3 separate regions of the Homo sapiens genome follow, and all the other regions are linked to region 3. Evidence: fine-mapped expression QTL. A gene starts in region 3. Each other region holds a variant in brackets. All regions are shown on one strand. Distances are from middle to middle.

What was found. PIP is the estimated chance that this variant, and not a neighbour inherited with it, causes the effect.
Region 1: its variant is fine-mapped to the expression of SOBP in whole blood (TOPMed, PIP above 0.99).
Region 2: its variant is fine-mapped to the expression of SOBP in whole blood (TOPMed, PIP above 0.99). The same link has a PIP of 0.9 or more in blood mononuclear cells.

Annotation. Positions count from the first base shown.
Region 1 is chr6:107,666,924-107,671,112 of GRCh38, forward strand. No RefSeq gene overlaps it. Among named protein-coding and RNA genes, the nearest start is that of SCML4, 160 kb to the right of the region's middle. RefSeq lists enhancers at 1,583-2,083, 2,084-2,584, 3,948-4,007. The variant G/T (reference allele first, on the strand shown) is at 2,301.
Region 2 is chr6:107,656,732-107,660,920 of GRCh38, forward strand. It overlaps SOBP (sine oculis binding protein homolog), which reads left to right. Exons shown (of 7, transcript NM_018013.4): 7 at 1,476-4,189. Among named protein-coding and RNA genes, the nearest start is that of SCML4, 170 kb to the right of the region's middle. RefSeq lists enhancers at 798-1,375, 1,124-1,173, 1,376-1,952, 1,414-1,603. The variant G/A (reference allele first, on the strand shown) is at 1,740.
Region 3 is chr6:107,488,127-107,492,315 of GRCh38, forward strand. SOBP (sine oculis binding protein homolog) reads left to right here and starts at 1,991. Exons shown (of 7, transcript NM_018013.4): 1 at 1,991-2,586. The coding sequence starts at 2,491. RefSeq lists silencers at 2,221-2,270, 2,311-2,370.

The DNA of each region.
Region 1 (4,189 bases), 180 kb after region 3:
AACTGGGGGCCGGCACTTAACATAATCAATGAAGAACTCTACTCAGAAAGGATGAAAAATGGAGGCTTGATCCGGCCATTTAAAGGATCTTTCCTAATACTCAGGCACATGGCTTTTATGAGACGCAAACACGGCTTAGAACCTTGCCTTTGGTCTGAAGGCGGGTCATTAAGAGAAATCATTACATCGCTTTCCCTGTCTCTGTCTCTCTCTCCGTTTTTCTTTGGCTCCCTCCTGGCTTTTCCTTGGCTTCTGATTCCATCCCTCTTTTAGATTCTCTGTGCCTTCAGTAATTTATGTGCAAGATATTTTCCCAACCTCCAAATGTTTTTCCATTTGGCAAACCATGTCCCGAAGCCTCCACACAATGTGACTGTAGAGTTCATTTATGCTAGAGAACATAAGCTTGGTTAATGGACAAGCCTAAGTGGCCAATGGCAGTGACCCTGTGGGCCTGGGCCGTCAAGGACTGATCCTCGGGGCTGCCCCAGGGGATGCAGTGGAGGTGGGTGTCGGGGAGGAGTGTCTTTTCCAGGTTGCCACAGATGCTTGGCTTCGACCCTCCTTGTCTCCAAAAGGGAAAGAATTCCTTCCAAGCCCCTTTCTCGTATAGTTTTTGGAAGCTTCAGGGCACCATATGGAGAATCATTTCATGATCCTCCTGATGGCTTTTACGTGAGCAGCTATAAATTGGATGGTTTCCTTCAGGTCTGATATCCTGCAGTACCTGCCATGGATTGTCAGGAAAGTCACTGAATATGTTAGTCCTGTGCCGTTCTTTGGGGGAAAGAAGGCCCAGACCCCCTCCTGGGAGGGACCACTATTACTTTGAGAAATGAAAACTAGAGAAGGGGGTAGGGTGGCACGTGGTGCAAAAGCCTGGAAGCTCAGGAGGGTCATGTGCCCCAGTGAATTTTTCATTCCAAAATCTTAGATTAGGACTAAGGCAGGAGTTGAGGCTGGTGCCTCTTCTCAAATGCCATGCTCATTGGCTTCTCCCTTGAGGCTCTTAATAAGCCTGGCTGGGCGGGGCCACTCTGTGAGATAAAGATGAGGTTAATGGGCTGGGTTTATGTCCAGGCGCTCACAGGGTATAACTAGACAGCATTTGGCTTCTGAAATATGAGCTCTATTCATTGAGTAACTGGCACTTTTTCTTTCTAAACAGTTGCAATGATATAATACAACTCTCTCCGTTTTACTTCTTTAAAAGGTGCCACATGAAGGGCTTTCTCAACTCTTGACCCAGGCATCTGTGGATTTAATAAGCAAATCAAAAGCAAAGAGCCATCCTCATAAGAAAAAGGCTTTAGGCGAGTTTTTTAAGGGGCCTTCTTTCGCTTAGATAACCATTTCCTTAACTGAATTCCTTTGACCCTATACATCTGAGCCAGGAGGGCAGAGGTTGGTTAGTGTATTCTACTGGGCCACACATTAATAAGGAATGGAGCCCTTCAACTGTTTCCCAAGCATCTCTGAAAAAAAAGTCACAAAAATCAGAGTACTGAAGACTGGTTGGCTCTGGGAACGCATTCACTCAGATGTATTTTTAGGCTTTTGTTTATCTGTCTTGATTGATAAAGTAATGATCAAAATGCGTTAGAAAATAATAGCCAACTGGTGAGAAATGGAACAGTTGGAGGCAGCGCGGCAATGGAGGAAAGCATCGCAGACTCCCCCAGACTTTCCAGAGAAACCCCGGGAAAATCCTCTTCTCTTCTCCTTTCTCTTCTTTGGGGAGCTGATCAGGGCTCTGGCTTGATAAAGCCCATCCCCCACCCCCCCACGTCGCAGAGTAACTCATTAACCCCCCCAGAAAGGCTGCCCGAGTCCTCGTTTCCCTCTCCTCACCTCTCCTCCATCCCTCTTCGCTCCGAAGGCTGCCGCAGGCCAACCAGAACCCCAGCAGATGTTTGTGTTTTATGAGCCAAACGGGAGCCTGAAGGATCAACCAAATACCAGCCCCTCTGAGAGGGGAACCAGGCCATCTAACACGAGGAACACAGAAGGCCGCCCGTCCAGCAGGGCTGGGGCTTCCAGGGAGCAGAAGGAGGGCTGAATAATTAGCTGGCACAGCCTCGTGTTGGCCCATCGCTCTGTCCTTCTGAAGAGCTCACAGAGGCCTTTAATGGGGGCTCAGAGAGGTTGGAGAGGCCCTCTGTGAGTCCACCTCCCTGGCTGGCAGTCCTGGCCAGGATGGCCTCCTCTCATGCCAGAGCACCATGTGGCACCCCGACCGTGGTTCCTGGCACAGGAACGAGCAGGAGGGTAAGGACGGCTACCGTGGAACCAACTTGGAA[G/T]TGCCGTGCTGCTCAACAGCCACCCCCACCTCCACACCGCTGTAGGGCCACGGAAGAATGAACAGTGTGGGTGTGCAGATGGAAGACCAAAGTTTCTCTCTCAGCCCCGCCACTTCCTGCCGTGCGCTGCTGGCCGCATTGGTCTTTAATGTCTCCAAGGCTTGATTTCTGTCTCAGTGACATGGAGATGATGAGACCTACTCTTGGGGTTGCTTCCAGGGTTAGATGATAGCAAGTGTGCTGGCTCTGGGCCTGTTTGCTCTGAGATCCATTTCTCAACTTTCCCTGCTCTGCTCCACATGGCAGGGCCCTCACCCTGGCTGTATTCAGCTAATGGGAGATGGGATTTCTCTCCCTCTCTCTCTCCCTCAGCCACCTTCCTCAGTTCCCTCTGGAAAGCCCTTAGGAGCTGCAGCTCCCATGAAGTCTTCCTATGTTTGTTCCTTCAGCCTCAGGGTTTTCTCACTGTCCCCTGCCCAGCTTCTCAGCTCTCCATCACTGTGGACCCCCTTCCCTTCCTTGCGCTCCCCTGGCTGCAAGGGCCTAAGGTGCTCTCTGTTTTCCTGGCTGGGCCTTGGCCGATAGAGTATGTGAACATGTAAACGTGTCGCACACCAAGACAGAGACAGAACCCCCGAAGACCCCAGTCCATAAAGCAGAAGGAAGGACGGTGCAGCTCACCTCGTGTTTCCCACCCTGAGCATCACAACCTGGAGCTTAACCGTAGGTCAGGTGATCTATCTGAAACCATTCCCCAAGGGGTTCTTCAGCTTGGGCCTTTAGACAAACAGAAAAATGGAATAGCAACTATGTATGTTTTTTTTTAATCATATATTAGTTTCATTAAAAATATGGATAAAAAATATGCAGTGGGCTTCTGGTATGCCTTCCATTTATTCTTTGCTTTAAAAAAAAAAGAGAGATGGGGGTTCTCACTTTGTCACCTAGGTTGGAGTGCAGTGGCATGATAATAGCTCACTGCAATCTCAAACTCCCGGGCTCAAGCGATTCTCCTGCTTCAGCCTCCTGAGTAGCTGGGACTACAGGCCTGTGCCACCATACCTGACTAATTTAGAAAAACCTTTTTTGGTTGGGCGCGGTGGCTCATGTCTGTAATCCCAGCACTTTGGGGAGGCTGAGGCAGGTAGATCAACCTGAGGCCAGGAGTTCGAGACCAGCTTGGCTAACATGGTGAAACCCCGTCTCTACTAAAAATACAAAAAATTAGCTGGGTGTGGTGGTATATGCCTGTAATCCCAGCTATTCAGGAGGCTGAAGCATGAGAATTGCTTGAGCCTGGGAGGCAGAGGTTGCAGTGAGCCAAGAGTGTGCCACTGCACTGCAGCCTGGGTGACAGAGCAAAACTCTGTCTCGAAAAAACAAAAAACACCATTTTTTTTTTTTAAGGAAAGGGTCTCAGGCTGCCCAGGCTGCACTCCTTGCTATGGAACTATAGGCAATGTCTCGTGTGTCTGGACTCTCCTTCTAGGTTCTGCTGACCTTGTCTGTGTCTCCTGTTATTCCTGTTCCATACCAAGTAGCATTTTCTTGGGTTTTTGTTTTTTTTTTTTGTACCTATTCCCTGTTTCAGTGCATGTACAGGAAGAGTTGTCTCATCAGGTGCCACTAAGGAAAACTTTCTCCATCAAGCTGCCTGCTGTGCACGTTGCCTGGGCTTTGCCTACCCCTGGTGCTGCATCTGCCTGTGTTCTGTCTTCTGGTTCTGCTGTGCTGTGGGGGAGGGGACGCTTGTACTCCTCTCCTTTTGGCAGGAAGAGTCACTTCCACATTGAGGTCAGAATTGAAAATGGATTTCCCCGTTGGGCAGAGGGATGGAGGCCTGCACTTCCTGTGTAGTGTAATTAATCGCTGCCCCTTCCCTGCCTGCA
Region 2 (4,189 bases), 170 kb after region 3:
GTTATAAACACTCCAAGCAAGCTTCCAGGTCTCTTTGTGGCTCCATTTCTTCACTATAAAATGAGGAAATGGTACTGTATTATCTCTGGGGTCCCTTCAAGTCCTACATTCTATCACCTCTCTGAAGTTATTTGTTCATTGTTCTAAGAATAATCTCAACAGTTGTAAAGATGTTTACAAGTCCTCTGTCACCACCTCACCTTAGCCAAATTTTACCCATTCACATTTCTGACAGCCTCATTTATTGGCAGGAAGAAAAGGTGCTGTTTTGGGGCATGGCAGAAGAGAGGCGCCTGACCCACTCATGTGATCAAAGTGTGTCGAGCGCCCACAGCGGGCCAGACTCTGAGCTACGAGTTGGGTGTAGAGACACGAGCAAAACAGACAAGCCCCTGACCTCTGGGGCTTTACCATGCAGTTGGCAGACTTCTAAGTGGCTGCTCCCAGAACTGACTGAGTGGCCTCAGGAAGCTCTATTTCAAACCAAGTGACTGGCGGCAAATGAAAGAAGGCTGCAGGTATCAAGAGGCAGAGCCTCATATCTCGGTGAATGTTGGGATGAGCATTCCCCAGAAACTGACTTTCCTGGTGGAAAATCCTGTTCAGAGCCTCTGCCCTGGGACCCCAAGGCTCTTGGTTGATTTATTTTCTTCCAGTCCAGTGCTACTGTTTGTTTTGGATGTGAAGAGATGTGAATGGCTCACCTTTTACAGGCAAGACCCACACACGGAGAAAAGCAAGCATTTCTTCCAGCTTAGTTGCCTTTGTGGGAAACTTCTGAAGATAGGTATATGTGTCCATGGTAATTTTCCACTTGCCAAAAAGTGAATCTATTGGCCCTCTTTTCAGCAAATACCAGAGCTGAGACATGGGGTTACAGGAGTGAGGTCAGGAGCTCCAGGGTCCTCCGTGACCTTGCCTGGCTTTGGAGTGACCTTGGGTGACTCAAAAGACCTCCTGCTGGGGCTGGATGCGGTGGTTCATGCCTGTAATCCCAGCACTTTGGGAGGCTGAGGCAGGAGAATCACTTGAAACTGGGAGGCAGAGATTGCAGTGAGCCAGTTGCACCACTGCACTCCAGCTTGGGCAACAGAGCGAGACCCTGTCTCAAAAAAAAAAAAAAGCCTCCTGCTGGTTAAGCATGCAGTCATGTGGAGGGGGAGGGTTGCTGGGTTGCAAAGGATGCTGTGGTCTTTGGGTGAGGGCGTGGTGTACCCTACTCATTATGGTATTCCAAAAAGCGACTTGAGTTTCATTTCCTCACACAAAGCTGGCAGGGCTGACCTGAGCAGACCGTGAATGAAACTCCTGTTGAAATCACGCTGTGCTGCAGCGGTTCTGGGGCTCATCCTAGGTCTGCCCTGGCGGCTGGAGAGTGTGCTGCTGTCTGACTCATGCCTGGGTTCTCCCCAGCTGGGCGGAGGGAGGGGGATCGGTCCAGTGGATTCTGACAGCCCCTTCTGCTCTTTTTCCAGGAACGTTCACTCACAGGGTACGCTCATGGAGAGAGGGCGCAGAGCAAACCATGTCACGCCATCCAATGACACCAGCTGGTCAGCTCACCACCCCCTCTGGCTAAAACTCAAGCAAATAAAGCCGCTTCCTGTCATTAAGCATCTCAGAGGAAGCAGCCCTCCCTCGATGGCCTCTAGCCCAGAGAAGCCCGCGCATCTTGGACCCACCAAGCAGGCCCAGCCTTCCTGCTGCCACCATCTCTGCTTCTCCCCAGAGGAACTTAG[G/A]GATTTCACCCCTGGCTTTTAAAAAAAACGAAATACCGACAAGCCACAAGGACCAATGTAGGTATTCTCCCCGCCCCATCTTCAAGGCTCAGCGACTGAGGCTGGAAGATGATATGGATTGGAACACAAAAAATCTTTTTTTAATCTTTTTAAAAACTGCTGTGGTTTTGCTGCTACACTAAGAATTGTGATTTGCATTGTACGGTTTTGGACCTATATTGTTCACGTTTTGATGGCGGAGAGGGGTGGTCCTGGAGGCCCAATGCTTCAGAGTCATCTCTGTCCTGCCCGGGATGCACTTTTAAATGAAGAGTTAGAATATTTTATTGGCTAATATACTTTTCTTGTTATTTTTACAAAGGCCACCTTTATCCTTTTTGATGCCATATTTTCAGTGTTACACTTTTATGGCTTTTAATTTTCGATTTGACAGATGTAAGAAGCAGCATGAATAGTTTATACTGTGGTTTTTCAGAGACTGAATGCCAAGAGAACTCGGTAAATGTTTATTCTTCTCAGCTTTCTCTTTAAATTCCCCTAAATAGCGCCCCATTTGGGAACAGAGCAAGAGTGTTGAACTGAAGACCAAAATGCCCTCAAGGTGTAAAATAATCCGAGGGGGAATATTTGCTGGGCGTCAGGAAAGACTCAGATGAAATTTCAACCCTGATGGTTTTCGGTGATCCAGGAAGTCAGTGAGACAATCTCTCTATATGCAGAGCCCTTTCATGATAATTAGAATGGTATGGACAAACCAATGAAAACAAGAGGGAAAGTGAGAAAGATCACCCATGATTCTGTTTCACTGTTTGCTTTCTCCTGTCATGGTTAAGAGAAATGTGCAATTCGATCCTCAATCAGTGGGTGGAGGATAACAGGGTAGATTCACTTGTGTGCACTTGTACAGTTGTAGCTGCGAGTCCAGAAGTCCTCTAGAGCATGTGTACTGGCACTGAGTTGGTGAGACAGTTGTGGAGTATCCCATTCTGATGAGTACAGAAAAAAAAAGAAAAAGAAAAGAAGAGAAAAAATTAAGAAAAAAATCAAAAAAGGAAGAAAACTAAAAAAAAAAAAAATCAAATCACCTTGTGATTCAGTGTATCTGTTTACTAACTCAAATAAAGCAATTGTTCCCTCTGGAGGGGTCCAGGTGCCCCCGCCCCACAAGGCCGCGGAGCCTCAGCAGGAGGGGTGGCGAGTTGCGGGTGGGCAGGGCCAGGACGGTGTGGCGCCAGCCTTGAAGCACCACGGCCCAAGGATGCGGTGTACATACTGTATTTCTAGATTCTCCTTTGTACAGAGTCACTTCACAAGTCAAGCTACTGTTTTACAGGTGCTCCTTATTTATTAGAGCTGTGAGAGCTTGGGGGACACACCTGGCGAGCAAGCTCGCTTTTTAAAAATGAAATTTGGGGGCAGGGGAAGGGGAGGCGGGAGGGAGGGGAAGCTCGCAAGCCCGGGGAGAGATTTATAAAAGTAAACAAAAGAAAACCTTCCAGCAACAAATTAAAAAATAATAACAAATCAACCCCAGCACCAAACCCACCCAGGCAGGAAGAAGCCGCCCCTCCTCTGGGGCCATATTTTTCTGCTGGGTCACAACATTCTCCTCTCCCTGACTGGTGTCAGATTCATCAAACAAAAAATAAATCTCGAAGAAAAAAAATGCACTTACATGTGCTTATTTGGCTTTTCTCATTATTATGACTACTGTTTTTTTTTGTTTTTTGTTTTTTGTTTTATTACAGAGGTGTTCATTTTTCTCCCCCTGGGAAACATTTTAAAAAATAGAACTAAGGAGTTTTAAAAGATGGTAAGCTACTGGGATGGCACTGTCTCTTCCTGACCTGCTAGACCACGCTTGTCTGCAGACAAGAGCCCACTCCGTCCGTTCCAGGGCCTGCTTCCTAACCATGCCCATCACTGACAGCACACAGTGCATGGGAAGTGAGTGTTTAGGCTGTAGACCCAGGTGTGGTGTCCCTTCCAAGTGCTCTTCAAGTCCTGATCTTTTTTGGCTCCAAGGGTTCAGGCCTGAGGTTCAAGAAGCACCATCAAATGGAGGCAAACATGCTCCACGGGTTCCACTCACATCCACACACCATCTCACCCCACTGACTAGAGAGACTTTTATTTCAGCCTTATGTGAATGGGGTGGGTCCGTTTGGCTCTTTGATACCTGAGTTAAATATCAGAAAGTTCCTAAGGTGGAAAGTATGCTAATATCTAGTTCTAGTCATTGTAAATCTAGTTCAGTTCTCTTGTTCTACATATGAAAAAACAGAAGCCTAGAAAAGCAACTCGACCTGTTCAGAGTCTCGCACTTAGTTGATTTAGCTTCTCAAAAAAATGAATGTTCATTAAAATCTGAGGCACCACGAGCAGCTCCCTTGAAGTGATCATCCTGTGGATTCCGGAGACCTGATTTTCTTCTCCCATGGAGCCCGAGA
Region 3 (4,189 bases):
TGTGGGCTGCTGCGGGCTCTGAGACCCGGCCACAGGACTCGCGGCTCACGACCTGAGTGTACCTAGATAGGTTCTCAGAGGCTACTGGGAAAATCGCAAATACAGGACGCCTGTACTGCAAAGCTCCCCTAAAACCTCATCAGTCTTCCTCTCTTGACTCTTGGGCGTCCCAGGAATTTTAACTTTTCCTCGGCGTAAGTGTTTCTCGCGCGGACCCCTTGCAGGCGCAAAGCCTGGCTCGCTCTGGCCTCCTGGCTTGCCCAGGATCTAGGCAGCCACGGGGAGCAGGGTGCAGCTTCCCCTCGCCTCCCCGGGACGGGGAAGAGAAGAAATCAGGAGGGAGGAGGTACTCAGCCCTCCTGGGTGCACTCCCAGATGTTTTTAAGTTGGCGTTTATTAAAAACAAAATGATGCTAAAATGCAAAATAGGCAACGTGGAGGTACTCAGCTCTCCTGCGTACACGCCCATGTATCTCTAATGTGACATTTAAGAAACAAAACAATGCTAAAATGCAAATTAGGCGATGTAATACCCAGAATGAGCCTCGTTTGACAGGCCAAACTGAGATTTAATGGAAAGCTTACTCATATCCCCACACGGAATTCATTCTTTTAGGAACTTAAAAAAATTGTGTAATTTTAAGTTCCACCACTGTCATAACGAACACTCCACAGTAACATGCAGTGGAACAATGGACACCCCCATATCGCATTGTGTCAGGTAATTATGAAGTGTCGAGGCGCGGGAAGGAGAAGCCGGGAACGTCAATGTGTCCTCTGCAACGTGTGGGAGCGCTCAGAGCCGCGCGTATCACAGAAACATCATCCAGTCGTCACCCCCAATGCCTCAACCCAGGGACAGGGACAGACTCAATCAGACCTCGGCCCCAGGCGTGGCAGGAGAGGGCCAAAGAGGGGACTTGTGAGCGCAGAGGGAGCGAGCACCGCTCCATGGAGGGCAGGCGCTAGCTGGGAAGTCGGGAGGAGAAAGTGCAACCAGGCGGGGAGGGGAGGATCCCACCGGGGCGTGGCGAGGGCGTTCGGGGTCCGGGTGAGCGGGACCCTACGCGGGACCGTGCGCTCCCAGAAGCTCCCACTCAGCCCAACCTTTTGGGCGAAACCCAGGACACCCAGATAAGGGTGCAGGCGGGGTCACGCGTAAAGCTGTTACTTTGAAGCAGGGCATAAGTGAGAGAGAGATAAAGAGAGAAGGAACAAGGGGAAAAAGAAATGAAGGGGCTGAAGGCCGAGATGTCCTACTTCTAAGTAGTTCTTTGAGAGGCAAAAGCTTCATTGCCATTGCAGTCCGAGGCAGCGCCGCGTGGAGGACCGGCCGGGCGGGGCGCGGGGACCTCTCCAAGGGGTCTCCAGCCTCCGCGCACTCTGCGGTGGCCCCCGGAGGGGGAAACTATTCTGGCAGCTCAGTGGGGGGAAGCTCGTCCGGGCTGTGGTTTCCTTTCCCCGAGACCCCAGCGTTGCACCCCCGAGGCGGCAGGCTCAGTCAACCCTCCCCGGGGGACGGCGGCCCTCTAGCCAGGCGACCTCAGGTCTCGCGACCTCCCGCCGCCCAACCTTCTCCTTTCACCCCCATTCATTTTTCCTCAGCGGCTCCTAGGACGGGCTCAAAAACCAACTCCACACGCAACCCAGCCCACCTCGCGGAGCTGAGAAGCAGGGCTGGGTTCCGAGCGGGCGCCGGCGCCCCTGGCGTGTGGCGGGGAGGTGGCGGCCGCGGGGGGCGCCGCGAGCCGCCCGTGCCCGCCGCGGATGAACAGGCGGCTGCGAGCAGCCCCCGGAGCCGCGCAGCATCCGCGTATCCAGTGACGGTGGAAGCCACGCCCGCTCGAGAGCCGGGGGGCTGTCCTCGCCCCCCCCACCTTTCCCCTCCCTCCGACCCCCTCCCGGCCGCGCTCCCTCCCCTCCTCCCGCGCCGGCCCCCGGCCCGCCCCCGGCTCGGCTCGCGGGAGGCGCTGGGCGCCGGGGCTGGCGCGCTCTCCCGGGCTCACACACAGCCGCGCACGCACGCCCGGGGCCGCTCTCCGCGCCGGCCCTTGCTCCCCGCGCCCATGCGGACGGACCGAGCGACGGAAGATGGCTGACGACTCCACGGGGCCCCGAGGATGCGGCCCGGCGGCGGCGGCGGCGGGAGCGGCAGCGGCAGCGAGGGCGGCAGGGGCAGCGGCAGCAGCGGCGGCGTTGGCTGCGGCGGCGGCGGCGGCGGCAGCAGGAGCCGGAGCGACGGCGGCGGCATCCCCGAGACTCTCCGCACTATCCTTACCCGTGACAGCCACTGACGTCCTCCGCCGCTAGAAGAGACCCCGCTTCTCGGCGCCTGCCCTCCCCCTCGCGGCTCGGTCCGGCCCCGCCAGCACCGCTACCTCCGCCAGCCTCGCCACCATCAGCACCACCTCCACCGCCGCCGCCGCCGCCACCACCACCGCCGGCGGCGGCAGCAGCCATTTCATCTCCACAGAAACCAGACACAAAAACATGGCAGAAATGGAGAAAGAAGGGAGACCTCCCGAAAATAAACGGAGCAGGAAGCCGGCTCACCCAGTGAAAAGGGAGATCAATGAGGAGATGAAGGTATTTTTTGATCTCGGGGGCCAGGGAGACTGAGCTCTTTCTTGCGCCCGCTCCCCGTGGGCCGTGGTATGGATCTGGGGGGTACCGGGGCGCGCTTGTCAGTTTCTGTAGGATGCCCAGAACGGCTCCGCTCCTCCTCCAGGTGTAAAGCAGAGGCCAACTCGAGGGCTGCATCCCCGAAATTGTTGCCAACCTCAGATTTGATGAGGGGGGACCACATACTATTTAACCTTACGAATCCCAGGTTGGCACGGACGCGTTTCAGGGCGAGGGCACCGGGGACTCGAGCGGCGTTGGGCAGGGGAAGAGGCTTTCCCAGTGGACGGTGCAGTTTCTCCCCCCTTTTTGAGAATCATCCTCAGGGTCCCTCCAAAGTTAGGAGCCTCCTGGCCGGGGCACCCCGGAGAGAGCTCTATTCCACCCCTCTCCCCCAGCTCACCCTCCTGCTCCTCAATCCCGCTTCCCCCCAACCAACCAGCTGCGACGGCGTGAAGAGCCCGTCAGTGCCCGGCGAGCTGCGGCCCGAGAGGCGCGGGTCTGGGCACGGTCCTGACCGCTCTCCTCGCCCGCCCCCGCCCGCACCTCACCACTGGCAGCCTCCGCCTCCCGCTCGCCTCTGCCTGCCTCACTTCCCAGCCAAGCAGACCCCGGCCAGCCCCGCTGGAGGACAGCTGTCTGAGGGGCGGCCTTTGCAGGGCGCCTGTCCATTGTTCGCTAAGGCCGGCCCGGAGTCCTCTCGGCGAGGCTGGGCTCCCCGCCAGGCCAGCGGTGCACCAGAGGTGGAGAGCGCAGCAGCCTGGCGCTCCAGCTGTTCGCGTTAGAGCAATTGCACAAGAGCACCGCTCAGCTCTGGACCCCCTCGTTGCCCCCCACCTCCTTATTTTCCATGAAGTTGCGGCTTTTGCCTGGGCGAGGGTTTTATTCTGTGTTGATTTCACGAGTCTCTATTGATATAAAACAATTTATTTATTTTTCTGCGAGCCATCAAAAAGTAGCAGGTTTGCATTTTGCGGTCTTCTTGGTGTTCCCCATCTTCTGCATGAAATCCTTAATACTACCAGGTGGCTTAATACTACTACTTGGCCAGTTTTGGTTCAGTTTGTATTTAAAAAACAAACTGGATGAAAATGGTGTGCAAGTAAGTCAAATTTATTGCGCTTTGACGCTTTCTTCATTAGAACAAGCATTTTCTATCATAGCTCACGCTTAGCAGGGGACGCATGGATATATATCATATATGTATGCGTACCTAGGTGCATATGCTTAGCTTTACTTCTCAGAAATGTCAGAAGCAACCTAAATATCAGAATTAGGGGTTTTATTACTGGATAAGGAACTTAGTACCTGGAAGCATGAGGTGCAGCATGAGTCCAACGGAGAGTTAAGGGAGATTTGCCTTGGAAATCAATGCTGTTTCTTATGGTGGAAACCACTGTTGATTCCAATGATGGACAGTTTTATTTTATTTTTTTTAAGACCGGTAGAAGTTGTTGTTTTTTGATGGGAACAAAATTCAAACAGTCCATAATAACCATTCTTCCTCACTTACCCTTACCTCCTGTCCTGCATTTCCAGTTTACTTTTGCATTTCATTTTAGGTTGG